Linked DNA regions of Homo sapiens. The protein of the gene in region 4 purifies or fractionates together with the protein of the main gene of each other region. This does not show direct contact. Each region holds a gene or a part of one and is shown on either strand. Other genes may lie near its edges. The genes, in order: UNC45A, OCIAD1, STK38L, LANCL1, C2orf76 and NRBP2.

Evidence for each region.
Region 1: the proteins of LANCL1 (region 4) and UNC45A purify together in Homo sapiens (affinity purification with mass spectrometry, with the first as the bait; one large-scale study listed by BioGRID). This does not show direct contact.
Region 2: the proteins of LANCL1 (region 4) and OCIAD1 purify together in Homo sapiens (affinity purification with mass spectrometry, with the first as the bait; one large-scale study listed by BioGRID). This does not show direct contact.
Region 3: the proteins of LANCL1 (region 4) and STK38L purify together in Homo sapiens (pull-down; one large-scale study listed by IntAct). This does not show direct contact.
Region 5: the proteins of LANCL1 (region 4) and C2orf76 fractionate together in Homo sapiens (co-fractionation; one large-scale study listed by BioGRID). This does not show direct contact.
Region 6: the proteins of LANCL1 (region 4) and NRBP2 purify together in Homo sapiens (affinity purification with mass spectrometry; one large-scale study listed by BioGRID and IntAct). This does not show direct contact.

The regions. Positions count from the first base shown.
Region 1 is NC_000015.10:90,948,785-90,952,284, reverse strand, and holds part of UNC45A (protein unc-45 homolog A), read right to left. Parts: coding exon 3,491-3,500; intron 2,970-3,490; coding exon 2,842-2,969; intron 2,632-2,841; coding exon 2,565-2,631; intron 2,132-2,564; coding exon 2,018-2,131; intron 1,786-2,017; coding exon 1,670-1,785; intron 48-1,669; exon of another isoform or gene 1-47.
Region 2 is NC_000004.12:48,851,588-48,855,087, reverse strand, and holds part of OCIAD1 (OCIA domain-containing protein 1), read right to left. Parts: intron 3,283-3,500; coding exon 3,113-3,282; coding exon of another isoform or gene 3,096-3,112; exon of another isoform or gene 2,863-3,095; intron 1-2,862. UniProt on the Homo sapiens protein: Maintains stem cell potency. Increases STAT3 phosphorylation and controls ERK phosphorylation. May act as a scaffold, increasing STAT3 recruitment onto endosomes. Involved in integrin-mediated cancer cell adhesion and colony formation in ovarian cancer.
Region 3 is NC_000012.12:27,313,786-27,317,285, reverse strand, and holds part of STK38L (serine/threonine-protein kinase 38-like), read right to left. Parts: intron 2,783-3,500; coding exon 2,628-2,782; intron 2,272-2,627; coding exon 2,169-2,271; intron 1,998-2,168; coding exon 1,936-1,997; intron 1-1,935. UniProt on the Homo sapiens protein: Involved in the regulation of structural processes in differentiating and mature neuronal cells.
Region 4 is NC_000002.12:210,435,260-210,438,759, forward strand, and holds part of LANCL1 (glutathione S-transferase LANCL1), read right to left. Parts: intron 2,614-3,500; coding exon 2,431-2,613; intron 1,134-2,430; coding exon 957-1,133; intron 201-956; coding exon 128-200; intron 1-127. UniProt on the Homo sapiens protein: Functions as a glutathione transferase. Catalyzes conjugation of the glutathione (GSH) to artificial substrates 1-chloro-2,4-dinitrobenzene (CDNB) and p-nitrophenyl acetate.
Region 5 is NC_000002.12:119,360,335-119,363,834, forward strand, and holds part of C2orf76 (UPF0538 protein C2orf76), read right to left. Parts: intron 1-3,500.
Region 6 is NC_000008.11:143,833,083-143,835,528, forward strand, and holds the end of NRBP2 (nuclear receptor-binding protein 2), read right to left. Parts: coding exon of another isoform or gene 2,356-2,446; 3' UTR 501-2,355; downstream 1-500. UniProt on the Homo sapiens protein: May regulate apoptosis of neural progenitor cells during their differentiation.

The DNA.
Region 1 (3,500 bases), on a different chromosome or scaffold from region 4:
AGCCTGTAGAGCCAGGAAGCAATTAAATCTCTTTTCTTTATAAATTACCCAGTCTCAGGTATTCCTTTACAGCAATGCAAGAACAGACTAACACCGGCAGCATCATCAGAGTTTCTACATCTGCTCCACCCCTGCACCCACACCCTCATGCAATCAAGTCCTGGGCTGAGGATTTCCCTTGGCAATGTCCAAGGACCCTCTTGCACCAGGTATGAACTACAGTGCTTCTTAGCCTTCTAACCAGGCCTAGGAAATAGCATAGGATTGTGGGAAATGCTCAAAATTAGGATGTAGAAGACCAGGGTGGTCGTGATGGTGAGGCTAACACCTAACATTTGAGGGTTTTTGTTTCTGTGTTTTTTTGAGGCAGGATCTCACTCTGTCACCTAGGCTGGAGTAAAGTGGCATGATCACAGCTCACTGCTGTAGCCTTGACCCCCCCAGGCTCAAGTGATCCTCCTGCCTCAGCCTCTCGAGTAGCTGGGACTACAGGTGCACGCCACCACACCTTGCAAATTTTTTTTCCAACTGTTAAGTTCAGGGGTACATGTGCAGGACGTGCAGGTTTGTTACACAGGTAACCATGTGCCGTTGTGGTTTACCGCACAGATCATCCCATCACCCAGGTATTAAGCCCAGCATGCATTAGCTATTCTTCCTGATATTCTCTTTAATTTCTTTTTTAAATAGGGACGAGGTATTGCTACACTGCTCAGGCTGGCCTGAACTTCTGGGCTCCAGTGATCCTCCTGCCTCATCCTCCCAAATTGCCAGGATTACAGGTGTGAGCCACCACGCCCGGCCTCATTTGAGTATTTACCCTGACCAGGCACCTGGATCATCTTACTTAATTCTCACCATGGCCCTATACTAAAGGTGCAAGTGTGATCATCATCACTACTGTTTTGCAGAATAGGAAACGGGCTAAGTAATGAGTAATATGTTCAAAGTCACAGTTAGTAATAAAACTAAAACATGCTGGCCAGCTGCAGTGGCTCACACCTGTAATCCCAGCACTTTGGGAGGCTGAGGTGGGCGGATCACGAGGTCAGGAGATCTAGACCAGCCTGACCAACATGGTAAAGCGCCATCTCTACAAAAATACAAAAATTAGCCAGGCGCGGTAGCACGTGCCTATAATCCCAGCTACTCAGGAGGCTGAGGCAGGAGAATCGCTTGAACCTGGGAGGCAGAGGTTGCGGTGAGCTGAGATCATGCCACTGCCCTCTAGGCTGGGTGACAGAGCAAGACTCCGTCTCAAAGAAAAAAAAAAACTAAAATATACTGATATGGCACAATGCTAGGGGCCAGGTACCCATGTAGTAAGTACTTTTAGGTGTATTTTCTCATTTTATTCTCCTCATCACTATGCCATGAGGTAGGTACTATAATCATCCCATTTCACAGAGGGAGAAACTGAGACAGAGCAGTTAAGTAACTTGCTTGAGGTTGCCCATTTGCAATCAGGGAAGCGAGGCAGTCTGACTCTAGAGTCTGCCGTGCCGTGCTGCCTCTTGGCCTGTCGCCTCCTCTCTAATGATGCGGAGCAGTCACTGTGAGGCTCACAGAAGCCCATGACCAAGGAGTGTTTCCCAATGTGTAAACTGCTGTGGGGGATATTCCGAATCCCGATGCCTGGTCCAGGCCCCGCAATCCCAAGGGACCTTACCGGAGCCTCTCGCTGATCCCAGCCAGGTTTGTTAGGGCCATGAGCGCCTCGAAGTTCTGCAGGCCTGAGCAGTTGAGGTGCAACAGGGAGACGAGGGGCCGGACCACCTCATAGATCTGCAATGTGCACCCCACCTGTCAGGGGTACTTGCCGCAGCCCCCACAAGCCCCACCAACCCTGCAGGGAGAAGCCCACCCCCAAGAGAGTACTGCTGTCTCAGGCTGTCCTCCCTGCCCCAGGCCTTGACAAAGCTGAAACTTCCTGCTGGTCCCAAAGGGGAGCTACAGCCCAGCCCACAGGCCATCAGGGACAGAGGGAGTGGAAAGGCCGGGGCAGGAAGACACGTACCCGCTCGCCAGGGAAGGTCATCTCCGGGTTGGAGGTGATGGTGAGCTTGGCAAGGGCCTGGGCTGCCTTTGTCTGCCCCACGTCCGTGCCTTCCAGGGCCAGCGGGATCAGCGCCTGTAGGAACAAGCCCGTCACTGCTCAGGACATCCCTGGGAGTAAGACCCCGACCATCGGGCTCCCCAGCCCTGACCGTGCCACCCTCACCTTCCTCCCTCTCCCCAGGCTTGACTCCCTGTGCAGACCCTCTGCATCCAAACACTTCCTGAAACACCTAATAAGGGCTGGACATGGATTGTGCTGAGCACCAGGGCCATGGGGGTAAATGAGACAAAGGAACAGTAGAGCCTAGGACCTTCACAGGCACCAGTGTGGAGGGGCCAAGGAGCTTGCCTGCTTCCGCGTCACTCTCTCAGCGGGACGGTGTTCCTCTGGCCATTAATGTTTTTCTGTTCCATATCTAACACCCAGCTCTGGCGTGGCAGCTGCTGAGTCATGTTTTATAGGCTGATGGCTCAGCCATCAGGAAGGGGTGTGTAAACCAGCTTACCCTGCCGCCTCCCTGGGCAACCACAGTGCCTCGGTCCTCTACCTCTTCCACTAAAGCCAAGAAGACCCTGTGGGGAGAAGGCGGTGGTGGGCAGGCAGCTCTGGGACTCTGGCAGGCAGACGCTGCACTCCTAGGCTCAGCAAAGACGGCAGCCACGCAGGCAGCCCCCGTCGCTCTAAGAGGCCCACAGCACTGGAACCTGCACCCTCTGGAGCCACATCTGCAGCCCTGAGGCTCAGGAGTTGGGAAAGGTTGGCTCCTACCAAGGCTGGCTCACCTGGAGAGCAGCTCTCTGCAGGAACTGGTCAGCACAGGGCTCTCCGTCTTCACCATGCACACCATGGCCGACACCACACCCGCTGCCAGCAGCTTCTTCACCCGAGCCCGCACGAAGCTTGGCTTGTCCTGGGGGAGGAGGCAGCTTAGGAGAGGGGCCTAGGCTGACTCACAGAGAAAGGGGGACCCTTCTCACAGCAGTAATTGAGGAACTGGGAAATAAAACAGCCAGACAAAAGGAAACAAACTGGCTTAAAAGGGAGGCTGTTGGCTGGGCACGGTGGCTCACACCTGTAATCCCAGCACTTTGGGAGGCTGAGGCAGGCGGATCACGAGGTCAGGAGATCGAGATCATCCTGGCTAACACGGTGAAACACTGTCTCCACTAAAAATACAAAAAATTAGCCAGGCATGGTGGCGGGCACCTGTAGTCCCAGCTACTCGGGAGGCTGAGGCAGGAGAATGGCATGAACCCGGGAGGCGGAGCTTGCAGTGAGCCGAGATCGCATCACTGCACTCCAGCCTGGGAGACAGTGAGACTCCATCTCAAAAAAAAAAAAAAAAAAAAAGGGAGGTTGTTCTGCTGTGGATGCCCTGGGTTAGCTGTCCCCATGGTGGGGAACCCTCTAGCCCCTCTGGCGGCCCCTCACCTTGGGGTGC
Region 2 (3,500 bases), on a different chromosome or scaffold from region 4:
TATAAAATTCTGGAACAAATAATGAAAATATACATCAGACAGAAGAAGACTGGGGAGAATTTCCCACACTATGGAGAGAACATGATTTACTATTTTGGGAAGGTTATAAAGAACTGGAAGGAATAAAAAAATGTAAAGTGGCACTGATTTAAATCTAACTGTAATAAACTCTAAGTCTCCTAACAGCTCTGAAGGAGTGCTTGCTATTTTAAAAGATTAATAACTCTCTGAATTCCTGGTAAAAGAAAGCAGAACTAAAGTAGGACTTAAACCAAAGAATAAGATGCCCTGGTAGGGGAGGATAGCATCTGGGGCAAAGCAAAAGCAGGCCACTGCTGGCCCATGTGGAGAGCAGTAAAAAAGTAGCCACTTTGATTTAGAGAAGGGGGTCAGAAGGCAGAGCAGTGGATGGATGGATGGCTGCTGTGGAAGGCATAAAATAATATTAAGACATGGCCTTGCTAAGTAGTCTGTGGGTAGATACCAAAGGGCTTTTTGTTTGTTGGCTTTTGTATGGAAAAAAACTATATAACAGAATTTCCTAATGCAAATGGTGGGGAAGATGCAAGTCATCACAAGGAAAGAGTTAGTGCATGTCTAGAATACAGTAGTGCCCCCTTATCTGTGGTTTCGCTTTCCAGGGTTTCAGTTACCTGCAGTCAACCATGGTCTGAAAATATTACATGGAACATTCCAGAAATAAACAGTTCATAAATTTTAAATTACACCCTGTTCTGAGTAGTGTGATAAAATCTTGTGAGGTTCTGCTCTGGTCCATCCAGGACTTGAATCATCCCTTTGTCCAGCATATCCACACTGTCTACACTACATGCCTGTTAGTAACTTAGTAGCCATCTAGATCAAAAAAACATAGAACATAAAGGATTTGGTAATATCTGAGGTTTCAGGCATCCACAGGGGTCTTCGAACTTATCCCCCATGGATAAGGGGGGACTACTGTACAAGAAGAATGGATTTGAACTTCAGACTGGTTAAATGAGACATAGTGAGGAACAAGGACAGCTGCCTTTGGAGATAAGATAGTGACTTTAGCCATTCTCTCCTAATCTGCCCATTCCCTTCCTTCCTTTTCTGACTAATTTGATGCCTTTGCTTCCAACCATTAAAGAAAAAAATAAAAAAATCAGAGTTGAGGATTAAGAAGCTCTCAATAACTTTCATCCAAATTCTTTAATCATCTGAACTTCCATTCTTTCCTGTCTCTTCCTTTATACAAGGCTAATACTCACCCCTTTGCCCCGACTTTTGCTCTTAAGTAGTGCTGTCCAACATAACTTTCTGCAATGATGAAAATGTTCTATATTGGCACTAACACGGTAGCCACTAGCACATGTGACTATTGAGCAAGTGAAATGCTACCAAAGCAATTGAGAAATTGAATTTTAAATTTCATTTAACTTTAATTAATTTAAATAGCCACATATGGCTAGCGGCTACTCTGACCTACCTAGAACCCCCTTCTGCATTCTCTAGAACCTTCTCTGACCTATAATCAACTTCTCCCTTTCCACTGTATACCCTCCCCTCCCTTTAACTTCTTTCCCTCTAATCTTTTAAAATTTAAAGAGTATACTCTACAAAGGTCCATAATCCCTTATCCAAACCTTGGGGTCAGGTATGTTTCACTATTCAAAGTTTCTGAGGTTTTAGAAAAATACTACAGTAAATACCCCTTATATTACTTAATATCCATCCATTCAGAGGTTTAGGACAGGAATGAGTAAGCAAACACATTAATATTTCTATAATGAAATAAAGGAAAAATCTTATCTGGCAAAGTAAATAAAGTCTACGTTTATATAACTTATGTGAATTTAGGTCAGGGTATTCTGCTAAATGAATTCAGGTCAGATTTTATTACCAGTTTAATTATTAAAAAACAAAAACAGGCCGGGGGCAGTGGCTCACACCTGTAATCCCAGCACTTTGGGAGGCCGAGGCGGGCGGATCACGAGGTCAGGAGATCAAGACCATCCTGGCCAACACAGTGAAACCCCATCTCTACTAAAAATACAAAAAATTAGCCGAGCGTGGTGGCGGGCACCTGCAGTCCCAGCTACTCAGGAGACTGAGGCAGAATGGCGTGAAGCTGGGGGGGCGGAGGTTGCAGTGAGCCGAGATCGCACCACTACAGTCCAGACTGGGCGACAGAGCAAGACTCCATCTCAAAAAAAAAAAAAAAAACAAAAAACAAAAAAAAACTTGGCTTAAACCTTTTTGAATTTCAGGATTTTAGATAAAGAATTACAGACCTGTATTTCCCGTTTCTAATTCCTCATCTTTTACTGCCGACTAGACTGAAGGAAAGAAACTAATGTTTTTTGAGTCTATTATTTGCCAGACATTGCCTCTGATTATTTCCTCTAATTCCAACAGTTCATTAAGAGAGGTAGTATCATCTCCATTCAACTGATCAAGAAACTGAAAGGATCATAAAGTAGTTATAATAATATTACTACATTATTATAATGTAGTAGTAGTATTACAAGGTCACATAGCTAGCAAATGTCAATCATGATTCAAATCCAAGCCTTAATACAAAATTGATGTTGTTGCACTTACATGTGTGATCTTCAAAGCTAGTATTTACAAACTTCACAAAGCATTTTCACATGGATTTTCTCACTTGACAACAGTTCTTTCTTGTATTACAGACAGGGAAGCTGAAAGCCTTTAAAACCCAGCCTATCAAATGTAACCTTTTTATACCTTTCCTGGAGCTCTACTTCCTGAGACACGATTTATCATTTCTTCTTCACTATTCCACTAAGCTTGCCTTAGTATTTTCAATTACTGGGACATACTAGTAATTCATCCTTGTATTTCTATATCTTCTAACAGACTGAAAGTTTTTCAGGGACAAGAACCAAGTGTTATTCATCTTCTTCCACGTCTAGCAGAGTCCTTGACACCTACTGGTCCTCAAGAAAAGTTGAATGAATGAAGAAACAAATGAACAAACATGCTGAGTTTAGGTTGATGATTGATGGTAGAACACACAGGTGATATCCAGCAGAAAAGGTCATCAAATAAAGTTTATACATACGTTGGACCATAAAATGTTGAAATTCATTTCAAGAGAAGTTTCTACCTTGGACAATATGATCAGTAATACCAGTGGGAGCAGATTCATTCATAGAAGAACTGAATGGAATTGGCTCATAATGAGGAAGCATTTCTATGTTGTCTGCTGCTGGGGATGTCACAAAAGATGATTGACCACTCACACTTGAGTCATATTTTGACTTTTGATAATAGTGCCTGTAAATGAAAATCATATTGTAGTAAGAAATATGAGTCATTGCCTATATCTTAAAGAAGTGTTAAAATAACTTCTTTCATATAGCTTATTTCCAAAATTATATATACATATAATTTTTTTTATTTTTTTGAGACAGGGTCTTGCTCTGTCACCCAGGCTATAGTGCAGTGACGCAGTCTTGGCTTATTGCAATCTCCACCTCCTAGGCTCAAGCAAT
Region 3 (3,500 bases), on a different chromosome or scaffold from region 4:
CTATCTGAGGATGGCTTACTACTGGAAAAAGCAATATATAGAGGAGTTAAATTTTCACTTGTATTTATTTTGCATGTTTATCATGTGCAAGGCTTAGTGGTAGGTAGTGAGTCAGATAATATGTTATAGACTACTATTTTTCAGTCTATTTACTTTCCTGAGGGAATGCTGAATTAGTTTTCCTTTCATCACTTAGTTGAACAAATATTTATAGAGTGTCCATATGTGCCAGGCATTTTATAAGAATATATCATTTCTGCCCCCACAAGAAGCTCAGTTAAGTTATTTATATATATAGCCTTCAGTCTATTTCAAAAAGAATGAAAAAGTTGAACCTAGAAGACCTGGCTTCCCCACTCACTACTAATGTGTTCTTGGGCAAATTATTCAATTTCTCTGAGGCTCAGCTTCTGCTTACATAAAACTAGAATAATAATACCTGCCCTAATAGAGTTGATATGAAGATGAAACAATAAACGGCATGTGTTTTGTAAACTACAAACTACAAAAATAAGCATGAGGTATTTTCATTATAAATGTAATTCCAGGGTACTGCTTATCCTTTAGGAAGCTATGCAGTTTTTAATTCTTAATTCATATAAAATCTTACAAAAATGATTTCTACAAGGCAGTAATTCTCAACCAGGGGTAGTACTCTTGGGGCCATGGCAAAATGTAGGACCACAGATTTTGTCATCTCAGTGACATAACTGGCATTTACAGGGCAGGGGATCCAGGTGCTAAAGAAATTTCCTGCCCCAAACACTGAGTCCTCTCTACTTCTCCCTTGGGAAACACTCGATCTAAGGCTTGGCAACTACTGGCCATGAGAATAATAAAACACACACCTGAGTAATCACCCATGAATATTTTGTAAATAGGGGGGTACAGAATTCCCCCACCATAATTTTGAGCAGTATTCAGTTTTTCCCCTTTAAAAATAGGGAATATTGCAATTATTCTCAATTGCAAAACCTGATCTAAAATGGACACATTTTAAAAGTAGAACAAAGTTTTTCTCCTTAATGTGTAACTCAATACATTTAAAAATACTGAAATGTTTTACAAGTTTTTGCAGTTACTTAGGTTAATGAGATAATAAGCTCAATAATGCAAAGGTCATTTTATTTGGTTTTAGAGGGTATTAGCCTATTATTTTTCAGTCTGTTTACTTTCCTGAGGGAATGCTGAATTAGTTTTCCTTTCATCATTTGGTTGAACAAGTATTTATAGAGTGTCCGTATGTGCCAGGCATTTTATAAGAAATGAGAAAAAGAAAATCCTAAGGCACATTCTTAACCTGTAGACTGTTGATGGACCATGTTAACAGGACAAAGGGAAAGAGGAGAAAGGGGAAGCAATTCTTCTATTTGCTCAGTTATAGAAAGGAAATAGTATGGGGTTAAAAATAATGTAATTCTATATTAAAGGAGTAATTAAATTTATCTGTGGCAAAGCCAGCTTTTTCAAATTTTATCTGTTTTATTGTAACACTGTTTACATCCCAAACTTCCTGTTTACTTTGTCTATAAAGAAGTTTTTAGAAACTCACAACCACCTTACTTGCTGATTGATATTTGTTGTATCAGGATTTGTAACACAGTTATGAAAAATGGAAAAATGGAAATCACAAGGCATTCATTACAATTGCATTCACCTCAGTGAGTTTTATTTAAAGTGCTAATTACTAGTAAACAGCTTACTTGTAGGTATGCTCAGTAAACTACTCTAAAGTTACAAAGTAAAAACCAACACTTTGCTTTACAGGCAAGGAAACTTAACAGAGAAACTAAGAAAACTGTGTGATCCCAGAGCAAGCGCTACCATTGTTATGAAGTAAATACTAATTATTATAAAGATAAAAATAATCAAGTTAAAACCAGGTAAGATTTTAGAACCAAGGCATAAAATTCTCTTAAAAACTGGTTGACTCACCAGTTGTCTCCTGTTCTTCTTCCAAGTTTCTGCTTTCCTCTTTGAGTTCATGTTCTGAAATGCTAATTTCAACAATATGGAATTGTAATCACGAGGGAAAAATGCTCTCCACAAAAAGAAAATACATATACATCTAAAACACAGTGGATTAAGGAGTGGGGAAAGGGAAAGAACCTTCTGTTCTCTACAGTATCTTAACCAGGGGAAAGAAGAAAAACAACAACCAAACTTACAGAAGTCACTTGGTGGGTTGTGTGTGAGATTTCTATAAAATTCAGTCCTGTGAGCTTTCTTTAATCCCGTACATAAACCAAAATCAGATAATTTTACATGACCCTAAAAAAAAATCCAGTAAAATTAGATCATATTAACTTTGAAAACAAAAAGCCTTGTTATAAACTCCTCTATTAAATGGCAATTATAATAAAAATTCTTAGCTTGGGATTTATACACGTAAAATGTAAAATTTTAAGTATCTGATGATGATTTTTAAAAGTAGAAAATGGAGGGAGATAAAAAGAGAGCCATATTCCCTGTTGTCATTTAATTCCCAAGTCCTCTCCTAGTACCTTATCATATAATGTTGTTTAGCAATATTCTAAATTGCAGTTGCTGATTTCCATTCACAAAATCAGCCCTACTGCTCTAAAAAATAATCAACAGCCTAGTAATTCACCAGTTTATTCACATGCCTTGGCATCCAATAAAAGGTTGTCTGGCTTAATATCCCGATGGATGAAACCCAACTGGTGGATCGCATCTATTGCCAGAACAGTCTCTGAAATGTAGAACTGTGTTTCCTCTTCTGTCAAGGTGTCTTTCTTCATTAGCAATGTCATCATGTCACCTAAATAAAGGATAGTCAAATATATTATTATTGAAAATGCCTCAAAGGTGGAATACCTTGTAAAAGCTTTCCTGCTTTTTTTACTTTTTTTTTTTTTTTTTTGGAGACAGAGTCTCACTCTGTTGCCTGGGTTGGAGTGCAGTGGTGTGATCATGGCTCACTGCAACCTCCGCCTCCTGGGTTCAAACAGTTTTCATGCCTCAGCCACCCAAGTAGCTGAGATTACAGGTGTGCACCACCACACCCAGCTAATTTTTGTATTTTTAGTAGAGATGGGGTTTTGCCATGTTGGCCAGGCTGGTCTCAAACTCCTGGTTTCAAGCTATCTGCCTGCCTTGGCCTCCCAAAGTACTGGGATTACAGGCATGAGCCACCATGCCCAGCTAGCTTTCCTGAGTTTGCATTTTATGATCTACCCAGTATATTTCTAACCACATCTTGGGACAAATAAAAGTGCTATTGCATAGCAGAAGTTTCATGACTTTTAATGGTTTTAAGGCAGAGACCATGTGAAATCAAATCACAAAAGAGCTGATAATGAAGTAATATCTACCACTCAACTTCTAGAATTAACTGCTGAGGAAAATGTCAAACTGCAAAAAAATCAGAATAAGTGCACCTGGAAACGAAATATATTCTTTTAGAGTTTAGTGGGACATTATCCCACTAAAAAAGGCACCTGCAGACATTCTTTTATTTTCAAGGAATTTTAAAAGTT
Region 4 (3,500 bases):
ATTAGGAAATAAAAAAGTAGTTTAAGAATAATTATAAAATTTTTTGCTAAAACTTAAATACATTAATTACCAAGCAGAGAAGTAGATGCTGATATTATAGGGCAAATAAATAAAGTGTACAAAATACCTTCAAAGAGAGAGAAAGGGGTGTCTGGTGTTCTGCATCCATGTTCTCCATACTCTAAGCACCATTCAGCAAACTGAAAATGAGACCAAGTTAAATTAGTATAGTGATTTCTTCCAGAGACAACCCCAAAAGTTAAGAGGTTGTCTATACAAATTACTCTGAAAAATCAAACACTACCTTCACATCAGAGAAAGGAGATTAATGCAGAGAAAAGGATGGTTTGAAAGAGTACACAGCATGGGAGGAATTTAATGAGCTGTCTGAGTCACGTATCTACAAGGTTATTCAAGAAGAAAGGCACAAAATCACCCTACATCTTTATTTTTTTCTCCCATTAATGCTGTTGAGTAGAATTATGTCCCTTTAAAGGAATGCTAATTTAATTGAAAGGCTTTTCAAGGTTTTCCTTAAATAACTGTATTTGTTATCCAAGACCTATGGTTTTAGGGATAAATGAATTAAATCAGATGAACTAGAACTCTTTCTACAACCTCCTGGGAGACCTGCTTTTTTTTTTTTTTTTTTTTTTTTTGAGATGGAGTTTCACTCTTGTCACCCAGGCTGGAGTACAATGGTGTGATCTTGGCTCACTGCAACCTCTGCCTCCCGGGTTCAAGTGATTCTTGTGCCTCAGCCTCCAAAGTAGCTGGGATTATAGGCGCCTGCCACCACACCTGGCTAATTTTTTGTCATTTTAGTAGACCATGTTAGCCAGGCTGGTCTCGAACTCCTGACCTCAGGTGATCCGCCTGCCTCAGCCTCCCAAAGTGCTGAGATTTACAGGTGTGAGCCACCGAGCTGCTTTCTATTTGGTGGTTCTGACTCCTACCTTACAGGCCCTATACAGGTACTTCATGTCCTGTGTGAGGTTGTAGAGTGTCAGGAAGGCATAGGCATTCCCTGCAGAACCGTGGCACAGCCCATATCCCTTCTTCAGCAACCCATATTGCCAGATCACATCAGCACACTGATAGGCATCACAGAGATACTTTTCCTCTCTGAATACCTGCAGAGGCAAAGGACACATTTTATTATACGGGATATAAAAGAAAGTTCCATTGATATTCCTTCCTGATAGATAAGAAGGAAAGAGGGAGATGGCTTGGCAAGAAAGGGTAAAGGATTTAGTGACAGAGGGATGTGTTATGTTGCTAGTGACAATTACTAAAATCGACTAGTTTGGCTTTAAAAAAAACTGTGCATGACTTTGGCATGTACAGTCTAAGTTTTCTGCACATGTGTGTATGTTTATGTGGGTGTTACTGAGGAAGCAGCATTATTTAACTTGCAACTTGCTCTTATCATGAGTGACTTTCCAAAGAACACATGCTATCTTCTTTGTAACTCTGATGCCCTCTTCACTATTAGGAAGTTTCTTTACACACTGGAGAAGAACAACTGTTCTTTATTAAATATGCAGTCAGAAAAATAGAGATAGACCTTTACAATCTTTTACTGCCTCCTATATCTTCATCAAAGACTTAGGAAATATTCTGAGTAGATATTTTTAATATCTCATTGCAACCTAAGTGTTCTTAAAAGTAGGATAAGGCAGTTTAAAAAGTTTTTCTATTATTAACATATCTAATTCTCTGAAATGTAGAATATGATACACTAAAAGCTTATTTATGAGATGCCAGCGCCCAGCGATAGTCTGCAGAGTTGTAATTTGTTGATTTGGCACCAATGGTCATAGATATCTTTTTTTTTCTCAACTAAAAATCTGCGTTGATTGCAGTTCTGTGAAGGCATGCTTTCTATTAGTGTTATTTATGCACTACAATGGAATCATACAATATTTGTCCTTTTATATCTATTTATTTCACTTAGCATGTTTTCAAGGTTCATCCATGTTGTAATATGTATCAGAAAGTCATTCTTTTAATAGCAGAATAATAATCCATTGCATTGTGATATGTTCCATTGTATATATGACATTTTATCAATTCATCTGTTGATGAATACTTGGATTATTTTCACCTGTGGCAATTATAAATAATGCCGTTATGAATGCTTGGTTTTGGTTCTTTCGAGTACACACCTAGGAGTGGAATTGCTAGATAATATGCTGGATCATAAACAATATCTCATTGCAACCTAAGTGTTGTTAAAAGTAGGATATGAAACAATGGCTGCTATGGTACAGATAGATGGTGAGAATGAATTATAATTCATTTAGTAAAGTGATCTTAGGTCCCACAAGAGATTTATTTATTGTTCCTTTATGGATTAGGATAAAACTAATTTTAAATTATAAATTTTTGGTTATTTAAAAAAATTTATTTCAAAAATACACACAGTACCTTATAGGCCTGGATGAGCATGTAGATTACCCCAGGGGCGCCATGGCACCAATGGACAAGCAGATCTCGATTATCACCTATACATGGAGGGTAATTGCCAGAAGGGAATTTCAGCTGGCAGACGTAGTCTACACTGGGCTTGACCAAACTATGTAACTTCCCTTGGCTCACTTGAAGGCTGGGCTAAAAATGAGAAGGAAATTATTAGTTCTGCTGAAGCAAATAAACCTTCCTAGGTCTCAGTATATTTAAACCAGAAAAAAAGCATGGCTAAGGGGAAATGGAAGGTCATTAAGAGGTTTTGGATTTCATCCAATTTTTCCACCTATTGGATGCCTTTATTTTAAGCTTTTGTGATTTCATTTAAAAATTTTAAACAATGGGACAAAGTAAAATTGCTATCAGTTAACTCTTAGGGCCTTTTGTATATATGGTTTTTCTTTCTTTTTTTTTTTTTTTTTTGAGATGGAGTTTCACTCTTGTCACCCAGGCTGAAGTGCAATGGTGCGATCTTGGCTCCCTGCAACCTCCACCTCCCGGGTTCAAGTGATTGTCCTGTCTCAGCCTCCCAAGTACTTGGGATTACAGATGCCTGTCACCACGCCTGGCTAATTTTTGTGTTTTTAGTAAAGACGGGGTTTCACCATGTTGGCCAGGCTGGTTTTGAATTCCTGACCTCAGATGATCCGCCCACCTTGGCCTCCCAAAGTGCTGGGATAACAGGCATGAGCCACTGTGCTCGGCATTTTGTATATATTGTTTTTCAATATTAATTGCTATCTACATACATATAAATAATTTTCCTAAGTCAATGCCTATGAATGTGAGTGTAAGAGAAGTTTCTCATGGTTTCAATATATAAAACAAGCTTTAAAAGTCACAAAGAGATGCACTGGACAAACCAAGCATGACTTTCGTTATTACATTTAGAGAAGAGATAGGTGGTATTTTCAATAGAAAAAGGATACTAACAAGTTAAGAGACCTGGAATCTAGATTCCAAACTACAGCATGCCTCTAGATCAAGTCTTTTTGCAGAGGATTTAGGACTGATCTAAATGCCACATTATT
Region 5 (3,500 bases), about 91 Mb from region 4:
GGTGTGGTGGCACATGCCTGCAATCCCAGCTATTCAGGAGGCTGGGGCAGGAGAATCGCTTGAACCTGGGAGGCAGAAGTTGCAGTGAGCTGAGACTGCACCATTGCACTCCAGCCTGGGCAACGAGAGCAAAACTCTGTCTCAAAAAAAAAAAAAAAAAAAAAAAGATATATACACCTGTTTGACATAATGCTATTGCACACTTTATAACAGACTATACGTATAGTGTAAACATAACTTGTATATGCACTGGAAAACCAAAAAACTGTGACTCATTTTGCTGTGATCATCATTTTATGTCAGTGGTCTGTGACCAAACCTGCAATATCTCTGAGGTATGCCTGTAGACAAGTGATTGGCAGCAGCTTAATTCATAATAGCCAAAAAGTGGAAACAATAGCAATAGCCTTCAAAGAGTGAATGGTTAAACTCTTTCATCTATATGATGGAATAGTACTCAGGGATAAAAAAGAACAAAACTATCATTCACTCAACAAGCTAGATGAATCACCACAGAATTATTCTGAGTGAAGAAAAAACAATACAAAAAGGCTATATACCACAATTTCATGATATATAACATTATTGAAATGATAAAATTATAGAAATAGAGAAGAAAGTTGTGGTTGCCAGGGGCTAAGGAGGAGCTAGGTAGTGGTTGTGGCCACAAGGCAGTATTAGGAATCTTTGATGATGGAAATATTGTTACCTTACTTAAATGTATCAATGTCAATGTATTGATTGTGTTATGTATTCTATATGGTTTTGCAAGATGTTACCACTGGGAGAAACTAGGTAAGATGTACAAGAGATCTCTCTAGGCTACAGTAGTCCTCACTTACAGTTCCACTTTTGATGGTTTGAACCCAAAATGGGTTTCGTGGGTTTGTTACCCACGGCCAACCACTGTCCAAAAATATTAAATGAAAAATTCCAGAAGTAAACACTCACACTTTTATTACAATATATGGTGATAACTGTTCAATTTTATTATTATTTTGTTACTCTCTTACTGTGCCTAATTTAAAACTCAAATTTTATTATAGATATGTATGTACAGTCAGCCCTCCATATCTGTGGGTTCTGCCTTTGCAGACTCAACCAACTTCAGGTGAAAATATCCTGGGAAGAAAACGATAAAAAAATACGGATACACACACAAAAAAATTGTAAAATACAGTATCACAACTATTTATATAGCATTTACATTGTATCTAGTATTATAAGTAACCTAGAGATTATTTAAAGTATACAGAAGAATGTGCATAAGTTACATGCAAATACATCATTTTATATAAGGGACTTGAGCATCCATGGATTTTTGGCATCCATAGGAGGTCATGGAACCAATCCCCCACAGATATTGACAGACAACCATGTAGGAAAAAACATATATAGGGTTCAGGCCTCCATTGGGGGGGTCTTGGAATTTAGCCTCTGAGGATAAGGAGGGACTACTATATTTTTTATAACCGCACGTCAATCTATATAGTTAGCTCAAAATAGTGTTTTTTTGAACAACATTGCCCTTTGAAGGAATTATTAGCCAAAGCATGTCAGCAGATCTTTTTTTCTTTGAGGCAGGGTCTCTCCCTGTTGCCTAGGCTGGAGTGTAGTGGCAGGATTATACCTCACTGCAGCCTTGTCACCAGATTTTAATACAGTGGCGTTTTGAACAATAGGAGTCCAACTTCTATTTTTTTCCACCTCTGCCATCCCTGAGAAAGACCAACCCTTCCTCTTCCTCCTCAGCCTACTCAGTGTGAAGATGACAAGTCTGAAGACCTTTATGATCTACTTCCACTTACTGAACAGTAAATAATTTTCTCTTCCTTGTGATTCTAGTAACATTCTTTTCTAGTTTACTTTTAAAAATACAGTAAATAATACATATAACATATAAAATGTGTTAATCAACTGTTTGTTATCAGTAAGACTTCGAATCAACAGTAGGCTATTAATAGTTAAGTTTTAGGGTAGTCAAAAGTTACACACAGATTTTTGACTGTGTGGAAGGTCAGTGCCCCTAACCCCTGTGTTGTTCAAGGGTCAGCTGTATTTCTAATTTTCTTGTTGACAGGCAGAAGAGTTTACTAAGAAAATTCACCTCTAACAATCTAGTTTCAAGGCATTTTCCAGGTGGTTTGTCATGTGCAGCTAGGAGCTAAATAGGCAAAGATGTAGAAGACAATGTAGATTTAGAAGAGAATATATAACACATTTTTATTAAAGTATGAAGTTGAACAAGAACTCAGTACTGAACTCAAGATATTTTCATTATTCCTGCCCATAATCATGAATGCTTCTAAACAGAGCGCAGGCAGCACCTGACCAGTGTATGACCAACTCATGGAGAAGCAATTCTAAAGGAAGTCCTGTCTTCCTTACTTCCAGCCAGCCTAGGATACTTCCCTATCAGAATCTTCCACTCCCAAGCCATCTCTGCAGCTCACCTCAGCCCTAACCACCCCCAGCCCAAGTTGGCTAGGCAAAAAGAAGAGGAAGAAGAAAATGGTAAACATGTGCATGCCACACCTGTTTACTCTTCTCTCCTGCCCGCCTTGCCACAATTCCTCTGAAGACGAACACCCAAAGGAAGGAGAGGGTAGGAATGGCACAGGACTTGCTAACACCTCCAGCTGCCAGGCCTCCTCTCACCAGTTATGAGGAAAGCCAGGCTTCATTCTTACCCCACCCCCACCAACTCTCACCTCCCTCAGCCTTCACAAAAAAACTCCACCCATACCTCCCCAATCCTATCCAGAAGCATTTCCAAAGTCCCTTCTTCCCTTTAAAACTAGTCTCCTGGGCCAGGCGACATGGCTCACGCCTGTAATCTCAGCACTTTGGGAGGCCGAGACGGGCGGATCACGAGGTCAGGAGATCGAGACCAACCTGGCTAACACAGTGAAACCCCGTCTCTACCCAAAATACAAAAAATTAGCCGGGCGTGGTGGCGGGCACCCATAGTCCCAGCTACTCGGGAGGCTGAGGCAGGAGAATGGCGTGAACCCGGGAGGCGGAGCTTGCAGTGAGCCGAGATCGCACCACTACACTCCAGCCTGGGCGACAGAGCAAGACTCTGTCTCAAAAAAAAAAAAGGCAAAAAAAAAAAACTAGTCTCCTCCAGCTCTGCTGAAGCCCTGCCACAGGAGTCACATTCCAAGTAACCGGAAAGAAAATACAGAATGAATGTAATCCATCATTTGTGGATACCCTAACCCTCGCCTTATAGTAACTCTAGTTACTAGAGCAACTAGGAAGCTCTCCTGAAATCGTAGTTCATTTTCTGGTGATTAGGTTACTTTCAGAAATTAGAGGTTTCATTTATACTAAGAAACTTAATATGAAACTACTATTCCCACCTAATGAGCAAGAAATGCTTTCACTTATTAATATATCTTGCCAGGGCGAGGCACAGTGGCTTAGGCCTGTAATCCCAGCATCCTGGGAGGTCGAGGCAGAGGGATCACTTGAGCTCAGGAGTTCAAGACCAACCC
Region 6 (2,446 bases), on a different chromosome or scaffold from region 4:
CCCATGCTGACCACTGGGCTGTAAGTCCAAGAACAAGTAGCCTGGGCAGGGGGCTTGTATGGTGGGGGCTCCAGGAAAAGAAGAAACTGAGCAGTCAGTTATGTGATGAGTCCTAAGCTGTGACAGGATGCTCATGCTTCTTCAGGAAAGTCTAAAGATGAATCAATGACAAACACATATAGAAAACTAGGCAAACCAAAAAAAAGGCAATTATTAACTCCAGGGAAAACAAAAAGTTGTGCAAGAAATGCCATCCTAGAACACCGTGTTCTCTCCTGAGACGTGTGGTAATGAAGCTGTAATAACACCCATGCAGCTATGATGCCCGTAACACTGGAATGATGCCGCCAGGAGACTGAGGCAGGTGACCGCCCTCCTCCCAGAGGATGCCAGCCAGGGACATCTAATGTAGAAAAACGAATAAACAGGACTAAAAGCATGCTCATGGTTTTGAAAAACATGGATTTCAAATGCCTGAAGAAACAGTTAAGAGAGTTGAATTTGGAGAGGATCAGAGTAGGAGCCTGCATTTATTATTTATTATTGGCCTCAAAAAAAAAACTATTCTACTTTAAAAACAATACATATATAATTCTGAAAAGATAAAATTTAAAAGGAAAAATTCAACAGAGACATGATTAAGTGCAGCAATGGTGGTATTGATGCTTTTAAGTTCAGTTTAATCAGTAGTACAATGTTATGTATTTGCCACTGAAACCATTTAGAACCATGCATAATCAGACAGTTTAGCATGAGGGTTTCCATCTAGGATATGGAAATTACTTTAGATTGCTAATTTTGAGTTGGAAGGCGTGAGAATTTGAATAATTTTGTAAATAGTATTGGAATATTTAAGATAACTGAGATTCACGATTTTGTACCTTTAATTTATTTGATATGCGTTAGTAAGTCTTGCTTTGGTTTTTGGCTTTTGGTTGGAGTGCTGTGGTCAGCAGAATGCCACCCTTCCCCAACAAAAGAGGTTCATTCCTTAATCCCTGGAACCAGTGAATGTTAGTTTACATGGCAAAATGTGTCCTGCAGATGTGTTTAATATTAAAAACCTTGAGGAGGGAGATTATCATGTATTATCTGGCTGGGCCCAACCTAATCTCATGAGTCCTTAGGGACAACCTTTCCTGTCTGCAGGGAACCAGAGAAATGGTTCGTGACACAGACTGAACCTGCTAGCTCTGAAGATGGAGGAGGGGGCCAAGAGCCAAGGAATGTAGGCAGCCTCTACAAGCTGGAAGTGGCCTTAGTTTACAGTCAGCAAGAAAGTGGGGACCTTGGCCCTGCCACCGAAAGGATGTGGATTCTGCCAGCAGCCTGAAGGAGCAGGAGACAGAGTCTCCCCTAGAACCTCCAGGAAGGAAGGCAGCCTGCCAGCCTTGATTCTAGTCCAGTGAGACCCATAGTCAGACTTCCAGCCTACAGAATTGCAATAAATTTGTGTTAAGTCACTAAGTTTGTGGTAAATTTTACAGCGGCAGTATAAAACTAATACAGTGGTGTGCCTTCCTGGTTGACATTTGAAATGCGTTTAGAAAGGCATGAATGCGCTAATGTATACATACAGTTTAAAATGCTTAAGGCCATTTCACTAAGTTTGGAATTGGAGGAGAGGCAAGCCAAGAATCAAGAGGCCAGGAAGGCAGGGGTAGAATCCATGAGGGCATAGAAATCTCTAAGACTGAGCCAGGAGTGGAGTGGGAGAGAGGCAGGGAGCCAGGAGCTGACATCCTCAGAGGCCCAGGGAGCAGCTGCCCCAGGGAGGAGGTGCGGGAGGTAACATGGAGGGGCTGTGAGTCTGAGGAGCAGGGAGGATGTGGGGTCCCTGACGCCTCCAGGCCAGGGAATGCATGAGAGAAAAAGCCCATTGGAGGGGCTGCAGTGGCCAGAGGAGATCTGCAGAGGGGCTGCAAGTTCTGGTCTCAGGGTGGGTAAAGGGTCAAAGAGGTGGCTCTAGGGCAGAGCTGTGTGGGACCAGGGGCTTTGCTGACAACAGCCTCAACTCCAGACCTCTCTGTGGTCTGTTTCTCCTGCCAGGTCCCTGTTGTGCCCAGTGCCATGCCTGACACCTGCAGGTGTGTCACCGCTGGCTTGCTGTGCAGGCTCCTTGTGTGGGTCTATGGTGCCAGCAGGGGATGGCTGCTCTCCCAGACCCCATGGAGCAGTTCCCTGGGCAGAGGTCTGTCCAGGGCTGACCCTCACCCCCAAGCCCCAGAGCTGGGGTTCCCTACAGGGCAGCCTCCTGCATGCTGAGGAGGCAGTGGCCCCGGCCAGGCAGCCTGGGTAGGAACTCAGGGCGGAGAATGGAGGATATGGGAAGGGGTTCTGGGGGCAACCCTGATCCTAAGGACCTGGGAGGCCTAACGGCTCCCCCACACCCACCCCCCAACCCCTCGGCGCCCAAGGCAGGGTCAGCCCCACTCTCAGGAGACGG